2 separate regions of the Homo sapiens genome follow, and region 2 is reported to be linked to region 1. The links are microRNA targets in miRTarBase. Many come from high-throughput screens and were not tested one by one. Region 1 holds a microRNA gene; the other region holds the end of a gene's coding sequence.

Region 1 (5,000 bases):
TTGCCAGTTTATTTCAGCAGACTCAAACTGTCAGAGTGGAAGGGAAAAATTCCCTTCACCCTTACAATCATCTCCTCACCTGCCCTTCCCTGTTCTCTGTGCCTGCCCCCTCCAGTCAGCTATGCCTCTTGACTGGCAAATTTCTGTGTTCTCCCTGTTATCCAGGCCCACTCAAAACAAAAAACTGCAATTCTTCCCTCATGTCTTCCTCTCTGCTTAGCAGCTAAGTCCCTCCCTTCCATTTCTATTTTTTTCTGACTGCTATTTTAGAACAAAGTGGCATAGTGCGGGAAAAAAATGAGGATTTTAGAACAAGACAGGCCTTAGTCCAAATCTTAGGTCTACTATATTTTGGCTTCCTTGGGTAAATTACTAACCTCTCTAAGGCTTAGTTTCCAAGTCTGTAAAATGGGGATATTACCCACCCTGTGGAGGCGCTATGACTTAAGTATGCATCAAGTGGTAAATAGAGGGTCCTTTTCTTATTTTCACCTCATATCAGACACCTCCTGCTCAGAAACCTTCAGAGGTTGCCCATCACTTGACTATGACACCTAAGCCATGCATTTTGCATTTTGGCCCCTCTCTCTCATCACTCTTCCCCCCAATTACTGGGGCTTGGACTAATCAAAAACATTGGTTGATGGCCAGGAGTGTTGGCTCACATCTGTAATCCCAGCACTTTGAGAGGCTGAGGCAGGTGGATCACCTGAGGTCAGGAGTTCGAGACCAGCCTGGCCAACATGGCGAAACCCTGTCTCTATTAAAAATACAAAAATTAGCTGGGTGTGGTGGCAGGCTGCTGTAATCTCAGCTACTTGAGAGGCTGAGGTGAGAGAATGCTTGAACCCAGGAGGCGGAAGTTGCAGTGAGCCAAAATCATGCCACTGCACTCCACTCCAGCCTGGGCAACAGTGCAAGTCTCAAAAAAAAAAAAAAAACCAAAAAAACAGGCATGGTGGCTCACGCCTGTAATCCCAGCACTTTGGGAGGCCAAGGTGGGCGGATCACCTGAGGTCAGGAGTTTGAGACCAGCCTGACCAACATGGAGAAACCCCATCTCTACTAGAAATACAAAATTAGCTGGGTGTGGTGGCACATGCCTGTAATCCCAGCTACTCGGGAGGCTGAGGCAGGAGAATCCCTTGAACCCGGGAGGCGGAGCTTGCGGTGAGCCAAGATCGCGCACCATTGCACTCCAGCCTGGGCAACAAGAGCAAAACTCCGTCTCAAAAAAAAAAAAAAAAAAAAAAAACAAAAGGCTGATTCCATTACTCTTTCCTCTTTCCTCCCTGCTTTCACTTTGCCGTTCAAACCAAATCCTTCTTGATTAGCTCAGCACCAAGTACTGGCTCCCTCCTCAGCCATCCCTATGTGTAGTTCAGTGGCACTTGGGGCCAACTGCTTGTCTTACAGATTAGGCAACTCTAGATTACAAAGCACTGAAAGCAGGGGCTTCATCTGGTTGGTCTTTGACCCTGCAGAGCCCCTTGCACACAGGTGATGCTCAATAAATACTTGGTGAAAGCACAATTCATTTTCTGTGTTTCAATGGGCTTCTTTTCTCTATAGAATCAGATGCTTGGTTATTCTCACCTCAGCGCTATTTTGTTGGCTTCCAGAAGGCACAGTAACGCTAGGTGTGTTGTGTTCTATCCTTTAATTGGAAGAGCTTTGGGAACTGAAAAATAAGAATTATTTCTCCAAGCCTCATCTTCTGCCACTCCCCCGTACTCACCGGCCTCATACAGGAATTGAACTACTTAGCACTGCACAGAACACGACTTTCTCTCTCACGCCTCCGTTCCTCTGTACTTAGCCTCTGTACTTACGTGCCATTCCCTTTCCCTGAAATGCCCTTACTCTGGCTTCTCTGCCTGGCAAATTCCTACTCATCCTCCAAGACTCAGATCAGACATCGCCGCATCACATCTGTGAAGGCTCTTCTGCAATGGGCAGTGTAGCAGTACCCCCTCCATTTTTTTAGCTTCCTCAGCAAACTCCAAATAATTATAACAGTACTTATGGCATTATTTGTTTATTTTTCTTCTACTTCCTAGACCGTGAATTCCTTAAGGGCCAAGATTTCTGTTCTATCCCCAGCACAGTGTTCGGCCTATATTGGAGAATCCGGTCCGTACAAACTCTGCAGTGATTCAATCAATGAGCAAACAAACTCACCAATCATTCAACACAGCAGAGTTTGTACGGACCGGATTCTCAAATATTTTAAGACCTGGTCCTCTATTTGGAGTGCTTCATTCTGGAAGATCTCTTCCTCCCCCAAGCCCCTACCCATCCAACTGCCTAGGTTTGGTAGAAGAGGAAAATAAAGTGATTAGACGGGGGAAGAGTCCTTCAGGGCTAAGCTGTCATTTACCCGCTCTGGCACCGAGAGGGTTACGGCGACCCGGGGGCGGAGCCGTGCGGAGGCCACCTGCTGCGGGGAGGTCTGGCGCATGCGCCCTGACACCTAGCTGGTTCCCTACCCGCAGGGGCCCGGCTGAGGAGGAGCGCTTGCGCTCTGGGCCTTTTCCGCCGGGGGAAGTCTCGCGGGGGCGGGGCGGGGCCTCGTGGAGAAGTTCTCGCGGGACACCGACGGGGAGCGGAAGCCAGGAGGTATTGCTGCTTCGGCGACCGGGCGGCGGCAGCGGCGGCGGCGGCTGTGGCAGAGTCTGTGCCTGTGGCGGTGACGGCGGCGGGAGCAAGCGCTGCCCTCGCAGAGCAGCCTTGGGGTCGCCGGCCGCTCGCAGCGTTGTGGAGGGGCGGGCCGGACGCTGAGCGGAGCAGCTGCGCCACGGTGAGTACGGGAGGCTGCGCTCGGCGCCTCTCTCGTGCCTTTTCCTCTTGGCTCTACAGCGGGAGTGGGCCCCGGGGGAACCGGGACCGGCCCCGGGGTTCGCGTCGGGGCGGCGAGGCTTGGGACGTGGAGCGCAATCCCCGGGGCTCCGGACTCTACGTTTCCCCTTTTGGGGCGCTTCCTTCCTGGGGACCGTCCTCCTCCGGCTCTTGGCTCTGGGCAGTCCGGGGGAAGAGGTCGGGGTTCTCTGGCGAGGTCCCCTGCCTTCATCGGGAGGGTTTGCACGGAAGGGGCCCGGGAAGCCCAGGCGGGCCGAACGCCGACCGAGTCAGTCTACCCGAGCCTGGCGGCGGGGGACTGGTGTGGGCTGCAGCTGTGGTGATTGATGTGCCTTCGACCTGCACGGCAACCACGTCACCATCTCCTGGCGTCTTTGGGCTTAATTTTGTGCGGGAATCCACTTTGGGGTGGAACGTTTGCTGCTGGAGCCGGGGGAGATACCTTTATTCTGACACTTAAAAAAAAAAACTATTTGAAAAATATTTGTCAAGAAAAATTCAGCAGTAGCAGGTTGGACTGCACCGAGGAAGGATTGCGGCGAGAGCGGGCGCTGGTAATTTTCATTTGCAGCGCGCCCTCTCTATGATTGTAAGCCACACATGAGTTATGGCTTGTTTAGAAAGTTTTTCAAGGCTGGCTTCAAACGCTGTGAAAGTGCAGTTTGCAGGGGACTGAAGTGCACTTGAGGTCTGTCTCTTTTTGATGCTGTTGACTTTCCGAAATGTCAGACACATGAGAGAAATTAGCATTAGTCTATTTTGGCTTTCTTACTCCTCTTTCTCCAGTTATTTCCTTCCTTCTCTATCTGCTTCTGTCCTTTCCACTAGGGACACGAAATGCTTGTGTAATGCAAGTCATTTGCCCCTTCCTCCCCCCACCCCCCCCTTTTTTTCTAATGTACTTCCCCTTCCTCCTTGTAGTCCCCACTCTGGCGTAATTTTTCGAGGTTTCTTCCCTTTCGTGCTGTTCGTTTTCTCTCATTTCAAGATTCCGTCTTTTTCCTCGGGAAGAGACTCTCTTTCCTTGCTTTCGTTCCTTTACTTTTGCGCGTCCCCTGCGTTCCCTGCAGTCAGCCAGAAGGGTTGCTAGAGAGCCGTGGGAGGCTGAAGTCCCCTCTCTGAGAACGGGGAGGCTCAAAAGATTGAATTCATCCCTAAGAAATCAGTCCTGCCACTAGGTCGCAAGTGTGGTTTGCTTGTATTATTTTTGTCTTTTACTCTTTTTCTTTTAAGATTATGCTTCTGTGCCTGCTTATGTTTTCTTCTAGTATGTCTTTATAATAGGAAGATTGGGTCAGCTCAGTGACTTTTTTTTTTTAGGCAGAGTTTTGCTCTTTTTGCCCAGGCTGGAGTGCAATGGTGCTATATGGGCTCACTGCAACTCTGCCTCCTGGGTTCAAGCGATTCTCCTGCCTCAGCCTCCCGAGTAGCTGGGATCACAGGCGCCCACCACCATGTCCAGCGAATTTTGTATTTTTAGTAGAGATGGGGTTTCACTGTGTTGCCCAGGTTGGTCTTGAACTCTTGACCTCAGGTAATCCACCCGCCTTGGCCTCCCAAAGTGTTGGGATTACAGGCGTGAGCCACCGCGCCCGGCCAGAGTTAATTCTTATAATCAGCTTTCTTCTACTAAACACAAGCATTTATTTATTTATTTTATTTTTTTGAGACGGAGTCTCGCTCTGTCGCCCAGGCTGGAGTGCAGTGGTGCGATCTCGGCTCACTGCAGCTTCCACCTCCTGGGTTTAAGCGATTCTCCTGCCTCGCACTCCCGAGTAGCTGGGATTACAGGTGCTCACCACCACACCTGGCTAATTTTTGTATTTTTGTAAAGACAGAGTTTCACCATGTTGGCCAGGCTGGTCTCGAATTCCTGACCTCAAGTGATCTGCCCATCTCAGCCTTGGGATTACAGACATGAGCCACTGCGCCCGGCCTGAACTCAAACGTTTAAATGTTTGAGGCACTTTACTTCGTCAGCAAGTTATTCAGATTTGAGAGGCTTGCTGGGTTTTAAATACTACTGGTTGATGGTACTTAGAGATTCTTCTCAGTAATTGCTGTTATCATGTTGCATGTTGTCCATCAGAGTTCTAATTGTTACACATACAACAGAAGAGGAATGGATTTTGGAGAAATGA
Region 2 (5,085 bases), not on the chromosome of region 1:
GTAAAATCTCCAAAAAGGCCTCATCTCCATTACCTCACTCTTCCAAGTGCCTCACACAAGGAGCCTGGGATTAAATGCTGCAAAGACCCAAGTTCGAGCCTATCAATTAAAGGCTGTGTGACCTTAGGCAACTTGCTTCACCTCTCTGGCCCTCTGCTCCTTTATGAAATAGGGTGAATTCCAATCTAGCTGGTGGTTGTGAGGACAACAGAGGGCCACGTACAGGAAGTGCCCATCACCATGCCAGGGTGCTGTGTGAAAGTCAGCCCCTATCTCCAGTCCGTGGCCAAACCACATTCTCTCCACTCTCCATCCTGCCAAACTTGGCTGAGAACAGCACTTCCTCTGGGAAGTGCCTTGATTGATTCTCCTGTTTTGGGCCCCCAAGATTTGTCTCAACTCTTGACTTCCCACCCAACCTCCCAACTCTCCCTGGGCCTCCTGGATGCCTCCCACCCTGCCCCACTGTGGGACCCAGGGGAAGCCACACTCACCATTCTTGTCTGCTCTGCGGAAAACCTAGAGGACAAAGGGACATAGAGAGAACTGTGAGTGCCACCTGGGAAGCCAGAGGCCCCCACTCAACCCGACAGGGTCCCAGCTGGCCGACCTACCCCCTGCCTCGCCTTTCCTCCCGCCCAGCCTGGTCCCAAACCACCTGCCCAGCTCAGCCCTGCAGGAGCTTTTCCTGCAAGCGGGGCACAGGAAGAGCACGCAGCGGGTGCCACCTCTGCTCACTTCTCCTGCAGGGCCTGGCCTCGTGGGGGGTGCTCCTGGCCAGTCCCCTGCGTCCCCACCTCCCACACCCAGAGTGCAGCCCAAGTTCTATCTGATACATCAGCCCCTGGCACAGTTCCAGCTTGAGGAAGGTTGAGGAGATGGGCCAGGTTGTGGCCCAGGAATCTTGCACAGCCGTCCTAGACCTGAGCCCCGAGCTCTGCTGTGTGGCCATGGTCTACCCCAGCTGCCCTCTCTGAGCTGTTTCCTTGCGTGCTGTTGAAAACCAACAGCAGGCAGTGGCTACTCTGTCTCTGCAGGCGCCTGAGTTACCCACTAGCAAATAGATCAGGAGCAGCTGGGGTTAACTCTTTCAGGGCTGGGGCTTCCTATGGGGCTGACTCTGAGGACCTTCGGCAGGCGTGTGTGTACACACACACGTCCAAGGGGGAGTGGGGGTGGCAGAAGGCAAGTTCGGCAGATTTCATTTATGGAGAAGTGGAGATGAAGAGCAACAGAGGCAGAGAGGAGCAGAGTCAAGACAGGTCCCCGTCTCTCTTAGTGACCTGCTCCCAGGTCACCCAAAGCAGCCCAGCAAAGGGGAGACTGGCAGGCCTGGCAAGCAGGGGTGGGCCAAGCCTGGGCCGAGAGCCCCCATGAACTCCAGGTCCTGAACGCCAGCCCCCTCCAGGGTCCTGTTTTGTCAGGGTCAGTGGGGCTCAGGAAAGACTCTAACCTCTAGCCTAACTCAGAGAAGGTCTGCCACTGGCTGAGGGGCACGCAGCAAGCCAGGGAGGCCCAGGTAGGGTAGATGGAGATCTTGGGAGTGGGCAGGGGTGCTAAGCTGGGAATGGGGACATCTGGGGTCACCCTATTGTATCCCTGCCTCCATGACTGACCTGAGACATATCCCCTCAGGCCTTGGTTTTCCTACTTGGGAAGAAGGAGGGTCAGGTCCCTTCCAGCCAGGGCTGTGGTCAAGGTGCTGAGTCACTAGGGGCAGTGGGGAGGGGGTGGGAGACAGCTTTGCCTCCCTCTGGAGTTGGGGCATGAGGGGGCCAGGACAGAGCCGAGCACAGCGGTGAACGGTGGAGAAAGGGCTCAGGGCCGTGGCTGGTGCCCATGGTGGCCGCAGGGCCACCCATGGCCCCATGGGAGGGTGACTCTGAGCAGCCCTTACCAACTGTAGGACTCTGCTGCCCTGGAGTGGGGCCTGAAGAACTCTGGGGGCGGCACTAGAGTCAGGAGTGAGGGGCCCTTGCGTTTCCAGGCTCCCCTTCCCCAGTCAGCCCAGCCTGGAGCTGCCACAGAGTGGGGTGACCGCTGCTGTGATTGTCGCCAGCCCCCCGCCAACACCAGACACACAAATGGGGTGGGCTGAGGGGTGGGAGGCAGCAGGGGCAGTGACACTGGAGCAGGGACAAGAGGAGACATGGAGAGACAGAACAGGTCACACAAGGGCAGAAAGGTCAAGAGAAAACAGCAGGGCCAGAGAGAGGGGAAGAGACCCAGAAACAGCGGCGGGGCCCGAACAACCCCGGAGGGTGAGACTAACAGAGACTCGGGTAGGGAGACACCGCGAGCAGAGCCCGCGCCCACTCACGTCCTGGAAGAGCGTGTGTCCGGCGGGCCCCGGGTCGGGCGCGAGCTGGGGGTGCCGCGGGGTCTGGGGCTGGGGCTGGGGCGCGGGCGGCCGGAGCAGGCACACGGTGAGCAGCCCCGCGCACGCCATGGCGCCGCCACCCGCTCGGGCTCGGCTGCGGTTGCTGCCGACCCTGGACGCCGCGGCGGACTCGGTGTGGCTAGAGGCCGCCCCTTGGCGCCGGCGCCGACGCGCGGGCTCAGGCCCCGCCCCCGCCCCGCCCCCGCGGACGCCGGGTTCCCTCGCCTCAAGGTCCAACTCCAGCGCCGCGGGCCTCCGCGCTTCCGCGGCCACGGCGGAGGGGGAGGCGCCCGAGGGCTCCGGTCCCGCGACGGCCTGTCGGGAGCAGAACCTAGGGGCTGCGGGCCTACCCAGAGGGACAGGATGACCAAGCCAGTGCCGAGGTCAGGGTGACACAAGTGGGTAAAACCCACCAGGACTTCACCTTTTGGGGCGTCTGTATCCTCATCTACAAAAATGGTACTGGCAGACACCCTATGCAATTGTTGGGACTCATTCAATGTCAAGTGCTTACAACGGGGGCTGGCGCAGAGGAAGCCCACAGGTCCGTGCGGCCGAATCCCAGGCATCCCGACGCCCGCCCTCTCTGGCACTAAGCGCAGCCCTTTCCCCTCCCCTCCGTGACTCTGGCCCTCCCTTCAACCCGTTCTCCACACAGCAGCCGGGGGGAGCTTTTAAGATGCGAAAGAGGAGGTGTCACTTCGGTCTCCAGTGACTCCTTGGCCCCTGAATAAAGCTTAAGACTGAACGCCCCACTCCAGGAGCACCACTCTGACCCTCACCTCAGGACCGCAGCCACACTGCTTTCTCTCCGGTCCTCTATCCCGCTCCCTCCTGCCCAAGGCCTTTGCCCATCGTGTCCTCTGCTTGGTGTTTTCTTCCTCTGGTTAACTCCTACTTATTTTACAGCGCTCAGCTTAAGCACCACCCATTCCAGAACGCCTTTCCCGATTTTCTCATTTATGCAGATCTCCTCTTTCAGACCCTGAGAGCACCATGAAAGGAGGTAACACCCGTGTCCCCAGAACTGTTAAATACCTGACACAGAACCAGCCCACTGTATTTGTTACATGTTTACTAATGTCCAGAAACGTCTGGAAGGAAGACAGCAAACTGAGCAGAGTGGCCTCTGGGGCTGGGGAAAGGAGAGGCCACTCATTACTCTGCACTTCGGGCAGCACTGAATAGCATTCTTGGCTTTCTACAACAAAAACCTTTACTGGATCTGCTTTTGAGTTAGGACCAAAACAGCGAGGAAGCTGACCTTTCTTCGAGTTATGAGGCTCAAATCAAATCGGGCACGGACAGGGAGAAGGGAAGTGGAGAATGGGCATTTCCCCAGCAACCTTGGCCTCTCCCGCCCCGAAATGTTCCCAACAGAGTCCCAAAACCCGGCCCAAACGTCATCAAAATATTTATTAAAACCAAAGCAGGAGGGAACAGAGCTGTTAGGAAGCAAATCAAAGTGCAGATTGGAGGGTGGGGCAGAGCAGTGGGGAGGCAGGCGCTTCAGACACTGCAGGAGGGACCACAGGGTCTGGGCTGGGGGAGGCCTTCACCACCCCTCCTGCCCACATCAGTGAAGGTCCCCCACTCACCTCTCCCATCTCATATCCATCCTGGGGGGCAGCTGGGGCCCTGAACTGGCCCCCTGGAGAGGGCCCACCCCACCATCTGACCACCCATGGCTGTCAGTCAGTCTGTCTCCCTCCCTCACTTTCCCAATAAATAAATCACCCAGGCCTCAGTTCCTTCAGTATGGGGCAGAAGAACAGCTCAGGGACCCCTGCCCTTGCTCAAGGGTAGAGGGAGTTGGGGTATCAACCCCACACCCCTCCTCCCCTTTGCTGATTCCCCAGGCTCACCAAAGAGGCCTCGATAAATAAATAACGCTCCATTAAAGCTTCAATCAGAAAAAACCTTTAAGACAGAAGTGCTCTCACCGTCCTACACGCCCAGCCAGCCAAAGCCTCCCCACCTGGCCTGGTCAGAGCACCAGATTCTGGGAGCAGGCACTGCCCTGGGCCTTGTGGGACCCCCAGAGCAAAAGGGCCGAAAGTGCAGTTAGAGCCCCCCCACGCGCACACATGGACTCATGCACACACATGTGGACACACTGGGGCGTGTCTGCAGTGCACACACAGAGGTGTATGTTCACCTTCATTCCCCGGTACATGCACACACACATGCTCACACACATTCACCCCCGGTACACACGTGTGGGTGTAGGCTGCATGCACATACACACCACACAGACTCCTTCCCTTCCTGGCTTGCTCAGCCTCCTAGCGGTAGCCAGACCCCAGAGCTAGAAGCTTCTGGAGACAGAGGAGAGGGGTATAAATTAAATGTTTCCAAACAGGCTGGGAGGACGGCCAGGGACAGGGGGCTCCAGGGCTGCAGAGACAAGGTGAGCATCTCTGGAAACCCTGGTCCCTCCAAGCCCTGTCAGAAATCCAGGGGGGTGAGGTCCCCAAAGTCACAGTCGAAGAGGTCTCTGATGCCCTCGCCCTCCTCGAGGCCGAAGTGGTAGTCGAGGGCCTCGTGGGGTGGGGAAAGGCTGATGAACTCCTCAGGGAGGAGGCCGGAGAAGTCCTCCCGCACATGCTCCAGGAGCGAGTCGGCCGCCACCAGCGGGGACAGGCGGTCCTCGTCCACGGGAGCCCGCAGGCTGCCCATCCGGGACAACAGCGGTTCTGGGGAGA

What was found. Region 1 holds the annotated microRNA hsa-miR-3678-3p (CUGCAGAGUUUGUACGGACCGG, at 2,131-2,152, opposite strand). A microRNA usually pairs through its seed, bases 2 to 8, with sites in the 3' UTR of a target mRNA and lowers its output. Matches are read on the target gene's strand: a 7mer-m8 pairs with bases 2 to 8, a 7mer-A1 pairs with bases 2 to 7 and ends in A, and an 8mer does both.
Region 2: miRTarBase lists E2F1 as a target of hsa-miR-3678-3p. Seed matches in the 3' UTR shown: 7mer-m8 at 4,779-4,785.

What each region holds. Positions count from the first base shown.
Region 1 is chr17:75,403,289-75,408,288 of GRCh38, reverse strand. It overlaps MIR3678 (microRNA 3678), which reads right to left and starts at 2,220; the gene lies at 2,127-2,220. GRB2 (growth factor receptor bound protein 2) reads left to right here and starts at 2,611. Exons shown (of 6, transcript NM_002086.5): 1 at 2,611-2,800. RefSeq lists a silencer at 2,374-2,553.
Region 2 is chr20:33,671,904-33,676,988 of GRCh38, forward strand. It overlaps E2F1 (E2F transcription factor 1), which reads right to left. Exons shown (of 7, transcript NM_005225.3): 7 at 3,574-5,076. The coding sequence ends at 4,829. It overlaps NECAB3 (N-terminal EF-hand calcium binding protein 3), which reads right to left and starts at 2,525. Exons shown (of 12, transcript NM_031232.4): 1 at 2,321-2,525; 2 at 495-519. The coding sequence starts at 2,449. RefSeq lists enhancers at 188-737, 1,286-1,833, 1,834-2,381, 3,052-3,552 and a silencer at 2,236-2,865.